Linked DNA regions of Homo sapiens: region 1 is linked to region 2. Evidence: fine-mapped QTL for protein levels in blood plasma. Region 2 holds a variant in brackets. A gene starts in the other region. All regions are shown on their reverse strands.

The links. PIP is the posterior inclusion probability: the model's chance that the variant is causal. The UK Biobank Pharma Proteomics Project read protein levels with antibody pairs (Olink). The fine-mapping took linkage between variants from a reference panel, not from the people measured, so its PIPs are less certain.
Region 1: it holds the start of CD6, and the variant in region 2 is fine-mapped to the plasma level of the CD6 protein (UK Biobank, PIP 0.98).

What each region holds. Positions count from the first base shown.
Region 1 is chr11:60,960,403-60,972,947 of GRCh38, reverse strand. CD6 (CD6 molecule) reads right to left here and starts at 1,268. Exons shown (of 13, transcript NM_006725.5): 1 at 1,034-1,268. The coding sequence starts at 1,082.
Region 2 is chr2:25,261,676-25,269,675 of GRCh38, reverse strand. All of the region lies in intron 6 of DNMT3A (DNA methyltransferase 3 alpha), which reads left to right. Among named protein-coding and RNA genes, the nearest start is that of LINC01381, 61 kb to the right of the region's middle. RefSeq lists enhancers at 4,508-5,092, 5,093-5,676. The variant A/T (reference allele first, on the strand shown) is at 3,726.

The sequences.
Region 1 (12,545 bases), not on the chromosome of region 2:
AAACTCCAGTTCCCAGAGCCGAATGGCTTTCCCTGAACCAGTATGAGGCCACAGGCTCGGAACACATGCCTGGAGATCAAGGCAGAGAGGAGAGCACTCCCTGCCCAGAGTCTCGCGACATGTACCCAGTCCTCCAAACCAGCTCGATGCCCCCTCCTGACTGGGTCTTCCTGGGTCTCCTCCATCACAAAATGAAAGCACTTGGCTCTCTGGCTGCAAGGTGGACCCAGACTCCCCTGGCCCGAATTCTGTTTCCATACCAGTCTTCCCAAATCCCAAAATGTGAGAGCTCGATGGGGTCAGGATCTCTTGCATCTCCAGGCCCCTGCCCCGCTCTGGCCAGCTTGGACCCTGCACTCAACAGGGGCCAGCAAGTATCTGGGGAGCACAGTCTAGTGCCCCAAACCTTCTGGCCATCTGATTCCCTGGCCCAGGTGGCCAGGTGCCTTGACACTTGGGGGCAGCTTGAGACGTGGGGGTGGCCTTCATGCTCGCTTATGCCCTAGACTACCCCAGCTGGTTGTGCTGAGGCCATCAGCGCCTGGTTGTCCAGAACTCTCCCTGGCTTCCCTGAGTCCTGTTTCGGGAGGTGCTCTCCTGTGATTGGCCTACGCCTGCTGGACCCCAAGCCTCAGCTTTGGCGTTGAAAGTACCACCATCAGTGGTCCTGCCTCTCTGGAAGGTGAACGGTTCCTTCTTAAGAGTTGGCAAGAAATAGGAAATGGGGGAGTTCCTGAGCTTAAGGATGGGAGAGGCACCTCCCTCCTCACACCCTAGGGACCCATTGGTAAGGCACAAAGCATGCTTCCCACATTCTGTCACTCCAGGAGGCTTCCAGGCACAGCCCCAGCCCCTCGAGGGGCTCCTGTGTCCTCTCCTAGCCCCAGATGCTGGACCTCCCTGGTACCTGAGTGTAGTCTTGGCTAAAAGATCCTAGAAAAGTGACCACAAGGAAACAACCAGAAAGGGGACTGAGAGGGCCGGACCCGGCTCCTCCAGCACCAGTGGCAGGAGATGAGGGAAGGGGGCCTACCTGAGAGGGCTGCCGTCAGCAATCCAGTGATCCCGAAGAAGAGCCACATGTCTGGAGCTGTCTCTGGCTGCTACGCGTGGCTGCCTGTGGGAAGCACCATCTTGGGGCCGGGAGGTGGACACGGCCGTTGTGCGCCCCTGGCGCAGGTCTGCTCTACCCTTTGCTGTTCTTGTTCCTGTGTCTCTCTCTGCTCTCTCCTCTCCGACACGCATGCGATCAAACCCAACCTGTGAGTGTCTCACGCCTGCTTGTTCTGCTTGTGGTTTTGGTCTGCAGGAAGCTGGGCTGCTGTTACAGGGGCTGGTGGGGAGAGCCCCAGCTGCCTGTGCTGGGAGCCCACCCATCCAGGCTGCACCCCAAGAGTCACGGAGCCAGACACACGCATGCACACGCATCCATGCAGACACACTTCCCCGAGGGTCTTCTAAGAAGAAGGGAAGTGGAAGAGCCATGCCTCATTTCTGGTGGCCCAGAAGAAAAAATTGATAATGTAGTAGCTGCTCAATCAGTACATATTGGAAGAGGGAGTGAATGACCCATTGCCTGTCCCGGTCCGTGTAATTTGGCTCTCTTGGATTAAATCCTGAGTTTTATCTTAACCTTAGGTGCAATGGTGGTTGGGAAGGAGGGTGTGGTCTTGATGCACTTTTGGAGATAAGAGCCTAAGTCTCCCCTCAGAGAAATATAAATTGGGAAGGGCCTGAGAGATGGCCATCCCACAAGTCCTTCTACAGGGAAGGGTGCCAAGGCCTTGTGGGAGCCGCCCCGTCAGATGGCACAGTGGGGCCAGCTATCCCATCTCCAGGTACCAGACTGGGCATGCCTCCGTGGGAGTCAGGCATGGGAGCTGGGTCTACAAGGCTGAGCAGGATTTTGACAAACAGCAATCATGGGAGGCCTCTGGGCCAGAAGGAATAGCAGGAGCAAAGGGCTGAAGGAAGGAAGCCCAGGGCTGCCTGAGAAACCCCGAGTTGCCCCATTGCACTGCAGCAGACTGACGCTATAGGAAGAAGGCAGGGGCCAAGCGTGTTTAATTCCCATGGTACTCCCTGTGGAGCATATGGTAGGAGGTGAATAAATGTTTATTGAATGAGAAAAGGAATAGATAATTTGGTTGTCCAAGCAGGGCCCTGGAAGTGGTCAAATCCAGAAGGGGTTTGGTTCCAAATCCTGGCCCTGCCTCAATTGGTCCCATCCCAGGTCCACCTCTCCTGGCCCTCCACTTCCTGCATCCTTGCTTGTCTTCATTTCCCCAACATGTGGAATGAGGAGCGGTCCTCCTCCATTGGGTTCGGTCCTAAATGTGGGTGTATGCATTTGATGCGGCAAGTATTAGAGCCACGGGGAACCAGGCGCCCCCAGAGTGAGACTCCTCCCAGTCCTGCCCCAGCGCCGGCACCTGCTGCCGCTGCCCTCTGGTGGAAGTCACTGGCAGCACAGGTTTGCATGGGTGCCTCGAGCTCCCAGATGCAATTCCATTCATTTACACAGTCTTGGTGTGCAGAACTCTGGACAGGACTCTGTGGAAGTGAAAGAGAGGAAACCATATTCCTGCCCTCAAGGAGGATGAAGTTCACACACACACAAGTGACCAAACCACAGGCCAAGGTAGGACACACATAATGTGAGGTCTCCTGGTCCTAAGAGGAACCCGTTTGAAATGGGCCGGGAAGGATGGCTAGACTCCATTTCTGACAATATGGTAGACAGCAGATGCTGAAGAATTCTCCTAATACAAAACACCACAAAAATATTGTAAACCATCTTTTAAAATGTGTAGCTGAGGTGGTGAGAAATGAAGAAAATCATCAGAGATCAAAAACGACAATAAGCCTGGGCAACATGGTGAAACCCTCTCTCTGCAAAAGGTGCAAAAAATTAGCCAGGTTTGGTGGCACACACCTGCGGTCTCAGCTACTCAGGAGGCTGAGGTGGGAGGATCGCTTGAGCCCAGGAGGTCAAGGCTTTAATAAGCCAAGATTGCACTGCTGTACTCCAGCCTGGGCAACAGAGTGAGACCTTGTATATGTTAATATATAAAGACAACAAAAATCCAAAGAGATCACAGCCAGCAGAGAAGTATCTGTTGATCCAGTTGACCAAGAGCTTCAGTCTTATGAACATGGACAAAAGTTAAAGCTGAGAAACAAAATCGAAGTGAAAAACAAAATCCAAAATTTCTGCCTTAAACAAAGAGCACTGAAATACAACATCCACAGTGGAGAACTCGGAGAGAAAAATTCCTTAAAGCGAGCTGACACAGAGCTTGCCCAACTCAGTATGGACTCTGAGTGGGAGAAAAATAAATGTCAACCCTGAATGCCCCTCACCACAAGTCTACCCACTAATAGGCCTGGAGGTGAAACTCATGGTGACTTTGTGGCAAAAACAACCACACAAAAAACAAACAAACAAAAAGATAAGATAAGAATTTAAAGTAAGGTAAATAATAGCTCCTTAGGCACGTGGCAGAAACAAATGATAAAAATTGTCTCTGGAGTAACTCATCCTATATTCATGACTCAAAGAAATCCCACAGAAAAACTCCCATGGAACATGAGTTCACATGTTTGTAAAACAGAAAAATCATAAAACACAGGACACAAGGTGCTTTAGGTGAGAGGAGCACCAAGCAATAAACTAAAAATGCAGACCTTCGAACACATCTCAGATGTTGGAATTGCAGTATATATAATATAAAATAAGGATGTTTCATATGCTTCAAGAATTAAAAGTTGGTAATTGAAAGTATAGATAAGGAACAAGAGACTATTTAAAGTGACCAGGAAGATTGAGGGAAAAAAAGCAAGCAGTTATGTAAAAACATAATTTTTGAAAATAGAAGCCCAGTGTACAGATTAAACAGTAGATTAAGGCTCAGCACTTTGGGAAGCTAAGGCAGTCTGATGGCTTGAGGCCAGGAGTTCAAGACTAGCCTGGCTAACACAGTGAAACCCTGTCTCTATTAAAAATACAAAAATTAGCCAGGTGAGGTGGCACATGCCTGTAGTCCCAGCTACTCAGGAGGCTGTAGCACAAGAATTGCTTGAACCCAGGAGGCAGAGATTGCAGTGAGTCGAGATTGTGCCACTGCACTCCGGCCTGGGTGAGAGTGAGACTCTGTCTCAAAAATAAATAAATAAATACATACATAAAAATAAACAGCAGATTAATATGGCTGAAGAGACAACTACTGGGGTGAACAATAGATTTGAAGAATTTACCCAGGATGGAGCACAGGAGGACAAAGTGGTGGAAAATATGAAAGAGGCTAAGAGACATAGACAAGGAACAAGGATTTAAATATGTCTAATTAGAGTTCTAGAAGAAAATGGAAAATTTCTAGACTTGATGAAAGACACAATCCTCAGATTCTGGAAGCTCCCCCAACCCAAGCATGATAAATAAAAAGAAATCTACACCAAACATTTTTGGTAGCAAAACTGCTGATCACTAGACAGAAGATGGATGAATGATGAAGTAGATGGGCAGCTAATATGTCAATACCAATAACTAAAGCCAGAAGGCGATGGAACAACATCTCAAAGTACTAATAAAAAAATAACTGTCAACCTTGACTATCTTTCAAGTATAAGGTTTAAAAGACACATTTTCAGATGAAAATTGAGAGCATTTATAGCTAACAGACTCTCACCTAAGGGAATTCTAAAGGATGTTCTTCAAAAACAAGAAAAATAATCTCAGAAAAAAAAGTCTAAGATTCAAGTAAGAATGGTGAGCAAAGAAATATGTAAACACAGAAGTGGATTTAATAAGCACTGATAGCATAAAATAATTACAAAAATGTCCACTTTGTGGAGTTAGAAAAAAATGAAATAGGCTGGACATGGTGGCTCATGCCTGTAATCCCAGCACTTTGGGAGGCTGAGGTGGTTGGATCACTTGAGGTCATGAGTTTGAGAACAGCTTGGCCAAAACGGCTAAACCCCATCTCTACTAAAAATACAAAAATTAGCCAGGCGTGGTGGCTCGCATCTGTAGTCCCAGCTATGCAGGAGGCTGAGGCAGGAGAATCACTTGAAACTGGGAGGTGGAGGTTGCAGCGAGCCAAGACTGCACCACTGCACTCCAGCCTGGGCGACAGAGCGAGACTCTGTCTCAAAAAAAAAAAGAAAAAAAAATTAAAAAAGAAAAAAAAAATGAGATAAAACTAAAGAACCATAAAACAATAACAAATTGGTGAGGAGTGATCAGAGTGGGAAAGGTCTATTATTTGGTGGGAGGGCAAAATATTGACTAGCATTTGACCTTGTTCAATTAAACATGCATGTTAAACTAGTTGAACAATAAAATGGAACTTGTTGGGGAGAGAAGCCTGCTGTAAAGCCAAAGAGGGCAGGAAACGAAAAGAAAGAAATGAAAGGGAGAATAGGACAAACAGAAGCGTTGGTAGGTTTCAGCAGGTAGCTCAGGTGTAGGGTGGCGGGAAGGGTGCTCTTGACAGGGCACAGGGTAAGTAGAGGCAAGACAGCATGATGTGAGTGTTGCTGGGGCTGGATTGACATGATACACCCCAGGCAGCCCATGTTTCACAGACTCGAAGTTTCAAAAATGAAGCTGAAAGGTGCACCCAGCTGGGTGTCCAAATCAATGAGCTCATTTTTATTTAGAACTCTTGGAGCAGGACCTTGTGAACTCAATTTGCAAGGGACACCCAGTGGCTCTGCACCCTGTGGAGAACTCAGGAGTTTTTCATCCAGACTGTATCTCTCTTCTGACCTTCACCCAACAAATTGGAATAAGCAACATTACTGAGGGAAGCCCGACTCTCCCACCAGAAGGAAGAGAGGACCTAGAACTGAAAGGCCGCCACCCTCACCATGTGGCACGTGGGAAAGTTTAATGCTGACGGGTACTTAGTGAGCACTTCCTATTGTGCCAGACACTTTATATGGAACCTTAACCCTCAGTTCTCATTACAACTCAACCAAGTAGAATGTGTCCTTAGCACAGCCTTGCAGATAATGACACTGAAGTTAGAGAGGTAGTTTGCTCAAGATCCCACAACTAAGAAGTAGTAGGGGTAGGCTCTGAACTCAGGTCTGTTTGGATGAAGACCCTGGGCTCTTAACCACAGGGGTGGGTTGTGGTACAAGCATAAAGGCTTTGGCTGAAACATGGCACCACGGGCAGGAAAGGCTCTGGTTCTACGAGACTCTAAATTTTGGACCAGCCCTGCTCCTGGGCCAAGCCAAACCCACTCCTTAGTCTCTTGAATCCCGAAATTTCTCAGTCCTGACCACAGTCTCCAAACCAGCTACAGCCAAACCTTGTGTTTCCTGAGGCCCAGAATTTTCTACCATGTTCTAAATATTTAGCATCTAAATGTACATACATTAGCTCTAATCACTTAGTCACTCATTCAACACAACTTTATCTGTGTTCTAGGTGCTGGGGACACTACACGGACCAAAACAGACAAATATCCCTGTTTTTACAGAGCTTATATTTTAGTGGGAGAGAAACATAATCAACAATAGACATAATAAATAGGTTATATGGAAAAAAAGAAACAGAGCCGTGTAAGAGAGGCTAGGAGTGTGAACAGGGGTTACAATTGTAAATGGGTAGTAGCTTAACTTAGCCTCTTCCCCCTCAAATGGAGCCTGGAACAAGGGCTTGTTTGCGACAGGTTATTTGGGAATGCGATCCGAGGGAACAGGTTGAGGAACAAAGAGAAGAGAAATAGGAAAAGAAGGAAAGTCAATAAAAGGATGCCTCATTGATTTGGCCACACTATGGACAACTAGTACTCGATCTCAGACTTCTGAAATGGTTCTCATAACTATCTGTCCATGTGTGGTCTCCATTCCTACCACCCATTGCACCAGCACTGATGTGGCCAATGGAGAGAAGCTGGCTAATGTCCTCTTGATAGTCGTAGGCCTCCCTGTGGTAGAGCTTCTCTACTGGACATTAACATACATCGTGTCCATCCACATGCCTCTACCCCAGATATCCTTGCCTCTGATTTTCCAGTCTTGTTCCTTCCAGGCCCCTGCCCAGGAGTCCATGTATATCTATACCTCCACTTGTTTCCATATACAGTCCACGAATGACCAAAGGTACTATCCCATCTCTGCCTACTGCCAGTATTTCCCTTTACCATTGTTCTTCAGAGCCACCTCTGAGTGAGGTTATAGTATAGCTTCTGTCCATTTCTGGCTAGTAACAACCGATTGTGCTGCCCCATTTGTGAACCAGGTCTGAAGTTTTCCACTTCTATCAGAAAGAGCTTTCTCAAGGCCATAGATGTGAGTTAAAAGAGAAATATGGGGCCGGCGTGGGGGTTCACACCTGTCATCCCAGCACTTTGGGAGGCCGAGGTGGGTGGATCATGAGGTCAGGAGTTCGAGATCAGCCTCGGCAAGATGGTGAAACCCCGTCTCTACTAAAAATAAAAAAAAAAAAAAAATTAGCCAGGTGTGGTGGCAGGCACCTGTAATCCCAGCTACTTGGGAGGCTGAGGCAGAGAATTGCTTGAACCCGGGAGGCAGAGGTTGCAGTGAGCTGAGATCACACCACTGCACTCCAACTTGGGCAACAGAACGAGACTCAGTCTCAGGAAAAAAGAGAGACAGAGAGAAATATGGATGCAAAAGAGGCAGGTGCCATCTGTCCATGTAACTTACTTGTACCTTCTGGTTCTGTTTGGGTTTGAAGCAATTGTACAGCTGCTGCCCCTCTCCCCAGATCTTATAGCCTGGTGTGTGATGGGGTCTTGTGGTCCCCTAGTTGTTGGTGACCCATCTTCAGGCACAAGTCTCTATCAGGGCCCAGTAGCACCCTAGGATATGATTTTCAAGTGACAAGCATTTCTCTACTGCAGGAGCCATGGCTTTGGTTCAGCACCCTAGAGGTTTGTGCTGCAAAATTCTCTTTTTTGGAGCCTTCCAGAGACTCCATATGGCATCCTTATCCATGTGGCATCTCTGATATGACTGAACACGATTGTCGTAGGGCGTCACAGCAGCTTGCACCATTGCCTGGACCTGCCACAGAGCCTTCTCTCGTGCTGGGCCTCCCTCGGCACTAGCAGCCCCTCAAGTCACATGATAAATGGTCCGACAGAATTCCCCAGGATGCTTTAAAATCCAGAAGTACCCACCCTGTGCTGTGCCTTGTTCTTACTGATGGGGGATGCAAGTTACAAAGGCTTGTTCTTTACCCTAGAGATAATGTCCCAACATGCCCCAGACCTTGGGACCCTTAAAATCTTTCCCAATGTGGCAGCCACCAAAATCTTTTTGGAGCTTATTTCTTACCTTTTAGCATACAGAGGGCAGCAGTTCTCAAATTTTTTGGTCAGAAGACCCCTTTATATTCTTAAAAATTATGGAGGACCCCATAGAACTTTTGTTCATGTGGGTAATATCTACTGATATTTATCGTATTAAAAGTTAAAACTGAGAACTCCGGAAGATGGAGAGTACAATCATGGGTACCAGAGGCTGGGAAGGGTAGTGGGGATGGGGGAGTGGGGATGGTTAATGGGTACAAAAATATATAGAATGAATAAGATTTAGTATTTGATAGCACAACAGGATAATTACAGTCTACAATAATTTATTGTACATTTAAAAACAGCTAAAAGCTTATAATTGGATAGTTTCTAACACAAAGAAAGGATAAATGCTTGAGGTGATGGACACACCATTTACCCTGATGTGATTATTACACATTATATACTTGTATCAAAATATCTCATGTAGGCCGGGGGCAGTGGCTCATGCCTGTAATCCCAGCACTTTGGGAGGCCGAGGCGGGTGGATTGCCCAAGCTCAGGGGTTCAAGACAAGCCTGACCGACATGGTGAAACCCCATCTCTACTAAAAATACAAAAAAAAAATTATCCAGGCGTAATAGTGCGCACCTGTAATTCCAGCTACTCGGGAGGCTGAGGCAGAAGAATCACTTGAACCTGGGAGGTGGAGGTTGCAGTGAGCCGAAATAGTGCCACTGCACTCCAGCCTGGGTGACAGTGAGACTCTGTCTCAAAAAAAACAAAAAAAAACAAAAAAAACTCACATACTCCATAAACGTATGTATACATACACACACCTACTATATACCCATAAAAATTAAAAATTAAAAAAGTTTAAACAAAAAACTGAGACATTTAAAATATTTATTTAATACATTTTAAAATATAAACAGCAAACTCATTACATGTCAATATAAGTAACACTTTCTGTGAAAAATTACTGTATATCCCAAACCCCACAAAATTATTGGGGGCCGGGCATGGTGGCTCACTCCTGTAATCCCAACAATTTGGGAGGTCGAGGGGAGCTGATCACCTGAGGTCAGGAGTTCAAGACCAGCCTGGCCAATATGGTGAAACCCCTTCCCTACTAAAAATACAAAAATTAGCCAGGTGTGGTGGTGGGTGCCTGTAATCCCACCTACTTGGGAGGCTGAGGCAGGAGAATGGCTTGAACCCAGGCTGCAGAAGTTGCGGTGAGCCGAGATGGTGCCAGTGCACTCTAGCCTGGGTGACAGAGCGAGGCTCCGTCTAAAAAAATAAAATAAAATTATTGGGATATTATTGTTTTATATTTTTGCAAATGTCTTGAACATCCAGCTTTGTAGAAGCCACCTGGATTTTCATATCTGCTTCTTCATTTAATTTGTGGAGATATGTTATTTAGATTGAAGTATATGGGAAAAAATCTGGTCTCACAATATGGAGTAGATAAAAGGAGGAGTATTTTAATAGGATTTTAAAAATAATTGTAGATATTCTTTTCTGATATTGAAAAGTTGGCAAGTGATAGTTTCCAAAGGTTAGCTCCAATGTGAAATCTGAAATCATATCAAAGACCTTTTATATATTTTTCAAGTCCATTGTTCTATCTTGTACTTTGAATGGATCTCTTATCCGTGCATGATTTTGTAAAAATATGTCTCAGTCATTGTGGAACATACTGTTCTACAGTCCATTTTTAAAATCCATTGTTCTATCTTGTACTTTGAATGGATCTCTTATCCAGGCATGATTTTGTAATAACATGCCTCAGTTATTGTAGAACATACTGGTTCACAGATGCAGAAGTTATTCAGATCTTCCAAATGTTGACATATTTCGTTACACAGTATCAAAAATCACATTCATTGATATCATCTCTGATCCCATCAGAGAACTTTGAGTATTGGAAAGATGTCAAGATCATGACACGGGTTTTCTAACATTTGAATTTTTACTTAAAAGCTCTGATTTCATCAATGGCAACAAATACTGTCTCTTTCTTTCAAGTGACAGGCTCACTTTATTCATTTTCAAACAATTGTCTGCCAAATTTTTAAGTCTGAATAACCATAGTTTCAAGTAAAAATGGTGTTCCATGGGGGAAAACGTCTAGTTCAGCTGGCAAATCCAAAAATAGCACAAGTGCTTTTTTTCCCAGAGCTACCTTCATACTGTAGTATTCAGCAGGAGTGCTTTTTGCTTACTTCTTATTTGTCACATAGAATAAAGATTGTGCTTTAATAATATTAATAATTTTAACTGCTTCATTGAGGACATTCTTAAATAAAAGAACGCATCCTCTGAATGCATCAGGATGAAAAACTCCAACAGCTACTACTGCAGCTTGATGCCACTGCTATTTTTTTTTTTTTTTTTTTTTTTTTTGGCAAGGTGTCACTCTGTAGCCCAGTCTGGAGTGCAGTGGCGTGATCTTGGCTCACTGAAACCTCCACCTCCCAGGTTTTAATGATTCTCCTGCCTCAGCTTTCTGAGAAGCTGGGATTACAGGCACGTGCAACCATGCCTGGCTAATTTTTGTATATTTAGTAGAGACAGAGTTTAGCCATGTTGGCCAGACTGATCTCAAACTCCTGGCCTCAAATGAACTGCCTGCCACAGCCTCCCAAAGTGTTGGGATTACAGGCGTGAGCCACCGTGCCCAGCCTGGCGCCAAGGCTTTGATTCATGTGAAGGCACAAGTGGTTTTACTCATCATTGCTTTTGCTCCAGGCAAATTATGTCAGTGAAAAAGGCAAATTGTATCTTTATGTTTATATGCAAATAATTTTGAACTCGTGGACCACTGAAAGGGTTTCAGGGATCCTTAGGGGTTCATGAACCTCACTTTGAGAAGGGAGAGAAGAACCATGGTGCTCAGAGCTGAAACTTAGCATCTTGAATATCCGACCTAGTTCTTCTCCTAAGCATTACTTGAGACACGTAAGCTCTCTTCAAGGGGCAGCCCAGCTCTCTGTTCCCCCTTATGTATAGGATTCCAAGGTGCCTGATCAGTTTCCATTGAAGTGTGGTGTCCACTGAACCCAACACTCTATGAAGGAACTAATCAGTCTGGGGTCTAGCAGAGTGAGGTCCCTGATACCAAATTTAACCTTTATTATAACAATCAAAGCCTCCGAACTACATTAGAGGAATTCTGGAAAATTAGGAAAAGAAAAAAAGTCACCTATAGTCACACTACCTTGACAACCACTGTCATGCTGTAGCCTAGGGTGGCCTAAAGGTTGACTCATCCTGAACTTCTTGTTGTTGAAAAAATCCCAGGGCTATTTTTTTGTCTTGATGCTGCTAAGCCACATCATTCTGGCCCTTTCCAGTTGGGTCTTAGGTTCCCAAGAGGGGGACCTGATATTCAGATCTATCCACTTCATTCATATAGAGCTCCCCTGTCAGTGGTCCAGAACCCATTGCCCAATTGGACTAACCCTTCTAGCTTCATGTGATCTGCACATAGAATGCATCCATGTCAATGGCTCTTTCCTAAATTCCCTGTTGAGGCTTAGAAAATGATACCCCAAATAAAGTCCTCCACAGTAGCCTCAGAAGCAACCATTTTTCTCTAACCTTCTGCCCTCAAGTCTCTCAGTCCCATGCTCCCCCAAGATTAGCCATAGAAACTGGAATCCCTCTTCTCCAAGGCAGGTAGAAACAGAACCCTTTTCCCCCAAAGTCAGCCATAAAACCTAATTATATTACTCTACTCTAAGTTTCCCTCCACCTTTCTGTATAAAAACTGGCCATAAAGAAATTTTCTTGGTTTCGGCTTTGTTTGACTCTATGTAGGTTGTAAGACTCCCATTCCAGAGAGAGCCCCGTCCTACCCCCAGAAGGAAGGAATGCAGCACAGAGAGGCCAAAAAGAATCTAGAACCTGGGATACCAAGAAGAATCTAGAACCCAGGATACCTAGAAGAATCTAGCCAGACAGGCCTTGTTTGACTGTATGTAGGTCATAAGACTCCCATTCCAGCGAGAGTCCTGTCCTACACCCAGAAGGAAGGAATGCAGCACAGAGAGGCCAGGAAGAATCTAGACAGACGGGCCTTGCTAGGTTTCCCCACTCAGTCCGTTAGCATTAGATCATACCCTTAGGGAGCCTGGATAGCTCAGTCGGTAGAGCATTAGATCATACGCTTTTTGTTCAATTCTGTATCTACACGGCTGTCCACACTTTGCTGAACCTAAGCATCAAAGTGGACAAGTTCCCTCGTCTCTTTGGGTATTC
Region 2 (8,000 bases):
TGATCACACCCTGCCATAGAACCTCCAATGGCTCCCCATTGTCTCCCCCATCATGTCAGATACCCTCTGGCTATTTCTCAAGTCTTCAACCCTTCGACCTCCACAATCAGCCCACCCCACTTTCACTACAGTCCTCTAATAGAAGGGTGTCCCCTAGGAAGGGACATTGCCATGCTCCTTCCTTCCTTCCTGTCATCGTTCCTGCTGTGATTTCCCCAGTCCATTCTTCAGGGTTGAGGCCAAGAGCTGCTGCCTCCTCCAGGAAGGTTTCCAAGATTTCTCCAGTCCACAATGACCTCTTCCCTTCCCTGAATCCCTGTAACCCTCACTGGGGTTTGTTTGTTTGTCTGAGACAGTTTCACTCTGTCTCCCAGGCTGGGGTGCAGTGGTGCAGTCTCTTGGCTCACTGCAACCTCCACCTCCCAGGTTCAAGTGATTCTCGTGCCTCGCCTCAGCCTTCCCAGTAGCTGGAATTACAGGCACGCACCACCACACCCAGCTAATTTTTATATTTTAAGTAGAGATGGGGTTTTGCTATGTTGACCTGGCTGGTCTCGAACTCCTGACCCCAAGTGATCCGCCTGCTTTGGCCTCCCAAAGTACTGGAATTACAGGCATGAGCCACTGCACTCAGACTGTCCTTACGGTTAATATTACTTAGCACTCAATCATATTTCATCAGGGTATTTTTCACTGTTTCTTATGTGTTGATCACATCTTCCTCTGTCTGGCCTAATGCAATGGGCAGGGAGAACAGGCCCAGTGAATACCTGCTGGCTGGCTAAGCAGTTGGGAGGTAGGTGAATGTGGGACCACTTCTCTGGGAACATGAGATCTTAGATTTCCACCATGACAAGGGCCCACACACTTGATTTCGAGGTGGTTTTTCCAGGGGTGCTGACAGGTGTACCTGGAGGATGGCATGGGGACTGGTATGGACAGCCTCCATGGGTAAAGGGGGGCCAGAGTCTCCTCCATCCTGTATTCCTGCCATTCTCACCAGGCTTCTGAGCTGAGGAGAACCTTCCTTGGCCTGGCAGAGCTGGCCAGGGCTGTGGGGAGGGCAGGGTAGGGCAGTTCCTCCTCCCAAAGGAAGGCACTCCCTTAGCTCCTCTTCCTTCTAATTCTCAGAGCAAAATGCACTCTGATGGAGGGCTTGAGGGTTAGGAAGGGCCTCTCGCTTCATTAGCCCTCCCTGTAGCTCTGCAAGGCAGATGAGCACAGAGACCCAGGGTCAGTAGCTGGGCGGTCATCTCGCCTGGGAAGCCACTCACTCCAGTTTGTGTCGCGGCTGGTGGTTTTAGGACTCAGTTACAGCACATTGATGGCATGACTCGCTCATTAATCTCTTCACCCCAGCCGGATTCTAAATTCCGTCTAGGCAGCGGGTACCATGTCCTATTGTTCTAGGATCTGGTCTCTTTCCTGCTTCCGACCTGAAGGTAGGGACCCTTGACTCATGCATCCTTATACTTATTAGATGCTTAATAATATTGAATAGTGATAATGAAACATCTGTGACTGGAACATCATAGTCTCTCCTCCCTTCCCTCGCCACACTGAGATACAACCCACTCCCTCCGCCCAGGGCTGCCCAGCAGATAGCAGAGCCTTCATGGACCTTAAGGGTTGGCTGCTGTTTACTGCGACCTTTGGAGGCAAGTTCAAATACTGCCTTAAGAAAGGTCCCACTTACTGGGTGTGGGACCTTAGGCATCACTTACCCTGTACCCCAGCTGAGGTTCCTCCTCTGTGGATGGACTTGGCTGTACTCTGCATCTCCATGACAGCAGCACTCGCCAGCTTGTTTTCTGCCTCTACCCATTTCTGCATTTAAGCTCGTTCAATACAGGCATTCTGGGCACCCCCTGCCCCCAGGGCTGGCATGTGGGAGGTGCAGGGTGAAAGTGTGCTGAATGAATGAACAATTCTTATCTCAGAGTTGTGTGGACAACACACAACATTTAAAGCTCCTAGCACAGAGCTAGCATATAATAGGAACTTTATAATTTTTTAGAAAGTATTTTAAATTACATAAGTATTACACAAATACATTCTTGTGAAAAAGTCCGCCCAAACTTGCCACCCCAAAATTTTATTTTGAGACAGGGTCCTGCTCCATTGGCCAGGCTGGAGTACAATGGCATGATCATGGCTCACTGCAGCCTCAACTTCTTGGCTCAGGTGATCCTCCCACCTAAGCCTCCTGAGTAGCTGGGACCACAGGCATGTGCCACCACACTTGGCTAATTTTTAAATTTTTTGTAGAGATGGGGGTCTCCTTATGTTGACCAGGCTGGCTTTGAACTCCTGGGCTCAAGCAGTCCTTTTGCCTCCACCTCCCAAAGTACTGGGATTACAGGCATGAGCCACCACACCTGGCCTGAAAATTTAATTCCTTCACCAGAAATACTTGATGCTATCAGTTTGGTGTAACGTCATGATTTTTTCCTATCCGTGTGTATGCGTGTAAATATATAATTTTGCTTCAGGGGTTCTTTTTTTCCTGTTCTTTTTACACAAATGGAACCACACTGTAGTTTCATTTTACAGCTTGGTTTTTGACTTCCAATAAGTCTGTGCAATCTAGCCACGTAATTACTATTATATTCCACCATGTGGATTCCCATGGTTTTATTTAGCCATTCTGTTATTGGTGGCCATTTATGTTGTTTATGATATTTTACTGTTTAGCATTGCAGCGGTGAACATCCTTAGTCATACCTCTTTGTGCATCTGTTTCTCTAAGACAGATACCTAGAAAGAAAAAGGCCTAGCTGAAGGGAATGTGCATTTTACATTTTATGACATCTGCCAAACTGCCCTCTAAAAAGGGCACTCCAATTTATGCTTCTGTGAACAGGGTATGAGAAGACCTTTGCCAACATCAATATTTTGCTAGTCAAATGGGTGGGAAAATAGTATCTTGTTATGCTTTTAATTGGCATTTCCCAGATAATAAGGTTGAACATCTTTTCCTATGTTTATTGGCCATTTGTGCTGCTGCTTCTATGAGCTTAGCAAATGTTGCCTCCTCTGACTTTACAACCCTGCAGTCTCAACAGACTGTGCTTCCTGTCTGCCCTGAGGAGAGCAGGCCATGAATGTCCAGAAGGTCCCCCATGCTGTGTCATATTCCATTTAATAAGCAGTCACTCAGCACCTACTAAGTAAAGGGGCCTTGTGCTAGGGGCTATGGGAAGGAGGAGATAATAAGGTGTGATCTCCTGGGCTTTAGTCTAGTTCAGGAGAAATGGAAGTGCAAAGTAGACCAGTAAAGGCTCAAAACAAATTATTAGCCAACTGTATGGGAAGCAGTTTTAGAGCATTTGGACTGGAAGACATTCCTCACTTATTTGCCCTACCTGACCTTTTGCAGCGTGGCCTCAAAAATAACATCACCCTTGAAGGAGATGATGATGTTTGGAGTAGGCACAGCAAGTATACTTTACCCAAGGCTGAACAAGTTCTAGAGGCTCCCATGACAGCCTGTAAGCAGTAGTGACTTCGAGGGCTGGCCTTTACCATAGGCTACTAAAGTTGCCACAGAGGGACTCCCCATTGTCCTTTAAGTAGATGGGTTGGTTGCGCACCAGAGTCTTCACTTCTGGGGCACAGAGAGAACAGCTCTTAGAACAACCCCTACTTTTTAGTGGTGAGAAAAAAAGAGGCAGGGTGGGGTAGGTGACTAGTTGCTGGCCCAGGGCCAACTCCTGGCCACAGCA[A/T]AGCCTGAACCAGGGAAAGGGTGTTGAACTTCACTGAGCACCTACTTTACATCAGGCACTATGCCAGGAGCATTAGCTTTCACCACAATCCTAAAACATATTATCTGCATTTAATGTCTTTTTTTTTTTTTTGAGATGGAGTCTTACTCTGTCACCCAGTCTGAAGTGCAGTGGCATGATCTCAGCTCACTGCAACCTCTGCCTCTTGGGTTCAAGCGATTCTCCTGCCCCAGCCTCCCAAGTAGCTAGGATTACAGGCACCTGCCACCACACCCGGCTAATTTTTTGTATTTTTAGGAGAGATGGGGTTTCACCATGTTGGCCAGGCTGGTCTTGAACTCCTGACCTCAGGTGATCCACCTGCCTCAGCCTCCAAAGTGCTGGGATTACAGGCATGAGCCACCGCGCCCGGCCAGAAGTATTTTTTTAACCTGTATTTTGCTATTAGAAAATTAAGATTTATCTAGGTAAGTAGGTTGCGGCCACATGGGTATCCTGATGGAGTGGCCCAATGGGCAAAACTAGACTCCAAATCTCGTGTTGCTTCTGTTGTGTACCCAAATGACTAACCTACACTCCCAGTTTTCCTGGTTTCCTGGCTTGGAAATTGTCATGAAATTGAAGAATGCATTTAGAAGAGAGGGAGAGAGCTGGCCCGGCTTTCCAGCCTGCCGCATGCTCTTCCCGCCCCCGGCCTGCAGTTGTTGGGGCTGCTCCCCATGCCTCTTTGCCAGGAGGCTCAGGTCCCTTTCAGCCTCCCCGACCACCCCTCCCTGCTCTACTCATGTGGTCCTGAACCCTTGCCCTTGAATTGCTGTTTTTTCATGACCATGTGGATGATGTTGTGAAACTGGATTAAGAAAATGTTGGAATGAGATTTGGGAGGCCTGGTTTCTCGTCTCAGCTTCTGCCCCTCCTTAGCTATGGATGTGAGGAGGTCTTTCTGCTTTCGGCATTTTAGTTTCCTGGTTTATAATGCGACAGAAATAGATGAGATGACCCCAGAGATTCTAAAATTCCATCACGGCAGGTTGGGGGGTGAGACTGGAATCATGATCTGCACTCTCTTTATTACCTAGATTACCTTGTACATAAATTCTAAATTAAATATTTGAGTGAATTCTCAGACCTCGCATATACGTCTCTTCTAAAGGCACATACGTGAAGCATCCTTATAAAAACTCTTTTTGGCCGGGGGTGGTGGCTCACGCCTGTAATCCCAGCACTTTGGGAGGCGAAGGCAGGCGTATCATGAGGTCAGCAGATCGAGACCATCCTGGCTAACATGGTGAAACCCCCTCTCTACTAAAAATACAAAAAATTAGCCGGGCGTGGTGGCAGGCACCTCCCAGCTACTCGGGAGGCTGAGGCAGGAGAATGGCGTGAACCCGGGAGGCGGAGCTTGCAGTGAGCCGAGATCGCACCACTGCACTCCAGCCTGGGCGACAGAGCCAGACTCTGTCTCACAAAAAAAAACAAAACAAAAAACTCTTTTTAAAAAAAAAACCTTTGGCCCAGCACAGTGGCTCACGCCTGTAATCCCAACACTGTGGGAGGCCAAGGCGGGTGGATCTCTTGAGGCCAGGAATTCGAGACCAGTCTGGCTAACATGGTGAAACGCCGTCTCTACTGAAAATACAAAAATTAGCTGGGCGTGGTGGCACATGCCTGTAATCCCAGCTACTTGGAAGGCTGAGGCACAAGAATCGTTTGAGCCAGGGTGGTGGAGGTTGCAGTGAGTCAAGATTGCGCCACTGCACTCCAGCCTGGGCGACAGAGCGAGACCTTGTCTCAAAAAAAAAAAAAAAAAAAAAAAAACCAAAGGGTTGTCCAGCCTTTACTGAGCAGATACTGTGTGCTCAGTCTTTAAGATACCACCTTGTGTGTCTGGGTGTCTACTATGTTCCAACATTTTCTAGACACTAAGGAAGCAAATTTAAAGGCAAGTCAGAATTCTACCCTCCCCTGTGAGAGGTTGGTAGGTAAATGAATGAATTGTGCTGTAGCCAGGGCAGGGTTGTTTTAGAAATACTAAGGGAAGGACTGTGCAAGCAACTCCCTAGCCCTGCCTAAGGGCCTCAGGGAAGGCGGTGCCTAGGGAGAGGCAGTGTACCGCCATTGACCTGAACAGGACTGCTTGGCAGGGACAGTGGGGGAAGGGCATGGAGTGGGGTCCTAAGGGAGGTGGTCAAAGAAATCCTCTAGGAGTTTGGAGTCTAGAGTGCCTCAAAGTTTTTCCCATAGCACTGTCTATGGGGCTGACAAAGCAGAAAATATAATAGCCAATGTTCTCTCTGCTTTAAAAACCAGACTGCTTGTCAGGGAGGCCGTGGGATGTTCACATATGGGGTGGTCTGCCAGAGCCCTCTGCCGCTTTATTAAGAGGCCAGTACACTCGTTAAAGGAGTTAATGGACCTCAGTACTTACTACTGATTGCTTAGTAATTCAGTACTTGGTAAATAAACATGATACTATGCTAGTGGCGGGGTAGGGGGAGACCAATTGGATATAGTCCCTGTCCCAGAGGCACACATTGTCAAGTGGAGGAGGCAGGAATGTTTCCAACAAGCCTCAGTGGCAGTCAGAGCGTGGGGCTTGCTCTGTGCTCCTGTGTAAAGAGCCCAACATGAAGCATAAAGGAGCATGAGAGCAGCTTCTGGAGGACTCCAGGAAAGCTTCCTGGAGGAGGCAGGCATCCTTTGAGAATTTCAGTAAGTGCAAAAGAGGCTGGGTGCAGTGTAATCCCAGCACTTTGGGAGACCAAAGTGGGAGGATTGCTTGAGCCCAGGAGTTCAAGAGCAGCCTGGGCAACATGGCCAGACCCACTCTCTACAAAAAAAATATTTAATTAGCTGGGCATGGTGTTGTGCACCAATGGTCCCAGCTACTCAGGAGGCTGAGGTCGAGGCTGCAGTGAGCCATGATCATGCCACTGGACTCCAGCCTGGGTGACAGAGTGAGATACTATCTCAATAAATTATAAACAAACAAATAAAAAAGTGTTAAAGAGGAGGAAGGCATTTCAGGAAAAGGAACTACTGAGGGCAAAGAGAAGGAGGCATGACTTCTGGGTTGTTTAGGGAGTAGTAAGAGATCTGGTAACTAGGGTGCAGGGGTTAGGGAGGATGGGCAAGAAGAGACAGAACTAGAAAGCAAGATGGTCACATCCTCAGTGGTCTTCCTGCCATAGTGAGAAATTTAGGCTTCGTTGTCCAGTGGAGAGCAGGGGTGGAAGAGAATTGGACACATAGTTTAGGAAGATAACCTGGCAGGACAATAAGTATTCCCCAGAGAGAGGAAGTTTAGAAGCAGGACCAGGTAGGAGAACATTACATTTGGCCTTGACTGAGGGTTGAGGTAATGAGAGGCAAACTTGAAGGAATTGCTAGAACTGGTCCTGGTTGGAGGGGAGGGAAAAATTTGTCTGGTATTGGGAGCTGGGCTGGGGATAGGGTTCATTATCTGAGGTAGAGAATCTTGGAGGAAGAGCAGGTTTGAGGCAGGATGATACAGTGAACTTTTCATTTTCTTATGTATTCTGATGAGCAGAAGTTTTTAATAAAGTCCAACTTACCCATTTTTTTCCTTTATTGGTTAGTGTTTGTGTGTGTTATCTCTAAGAATTCTCTGTCTACCGCAAGGTCTTTAAGATATTTTCTCTTAGGAGGGGGTGGATTTTTGAGCTAGGGTTTGGATAAGCTGCTTTTGAGAAGCCAGCAGATTGGTGTCAATGGGGACAGGTTTTTTTTTTTTTTTTTTTTGAGACGGAGTCTTGCTCTCTCGCCAGGCTGGAGTGCAGTGGCACAATCTCAGCTCACTGCAACCCTTGACTCCCTGGTTCAAGTGATTCTCCTGCCTCAGCCTCCCGAGTAGGTGGGGTTACAGGCATGTGCTGCCATGCCCAGCTAATTTTTGTATTTTTAGTAGAGACGGGGTGGGGTTTCACCATGTTGGCCAGGATGGTCTTGATCTCCTGATCTCATGATCTGCCCACCTTGGCCTCCCAAAGTGCTGGGATTACAGGTGTGAGCCACTGCGCCCGACCCCAGGGGACAGGTTTAGTCAGATTCCAGGGTGGTCCTCATGGAGGGGACGCACAGGCAGGAGGGCAGGGAGAGAAAGCACAGAAAGCAGACCTGCTAGGAGAGGACCAGGATAGGGAGGGGCAGGGACAAGGACATGGGACTTCTGGGAGCAGGTGGCCGGGGGTCAACGTCCAGGAGGATTTCCTGAACCAGTTAGAGGACTACTGAACCCCCCTTTCACCTATCTAT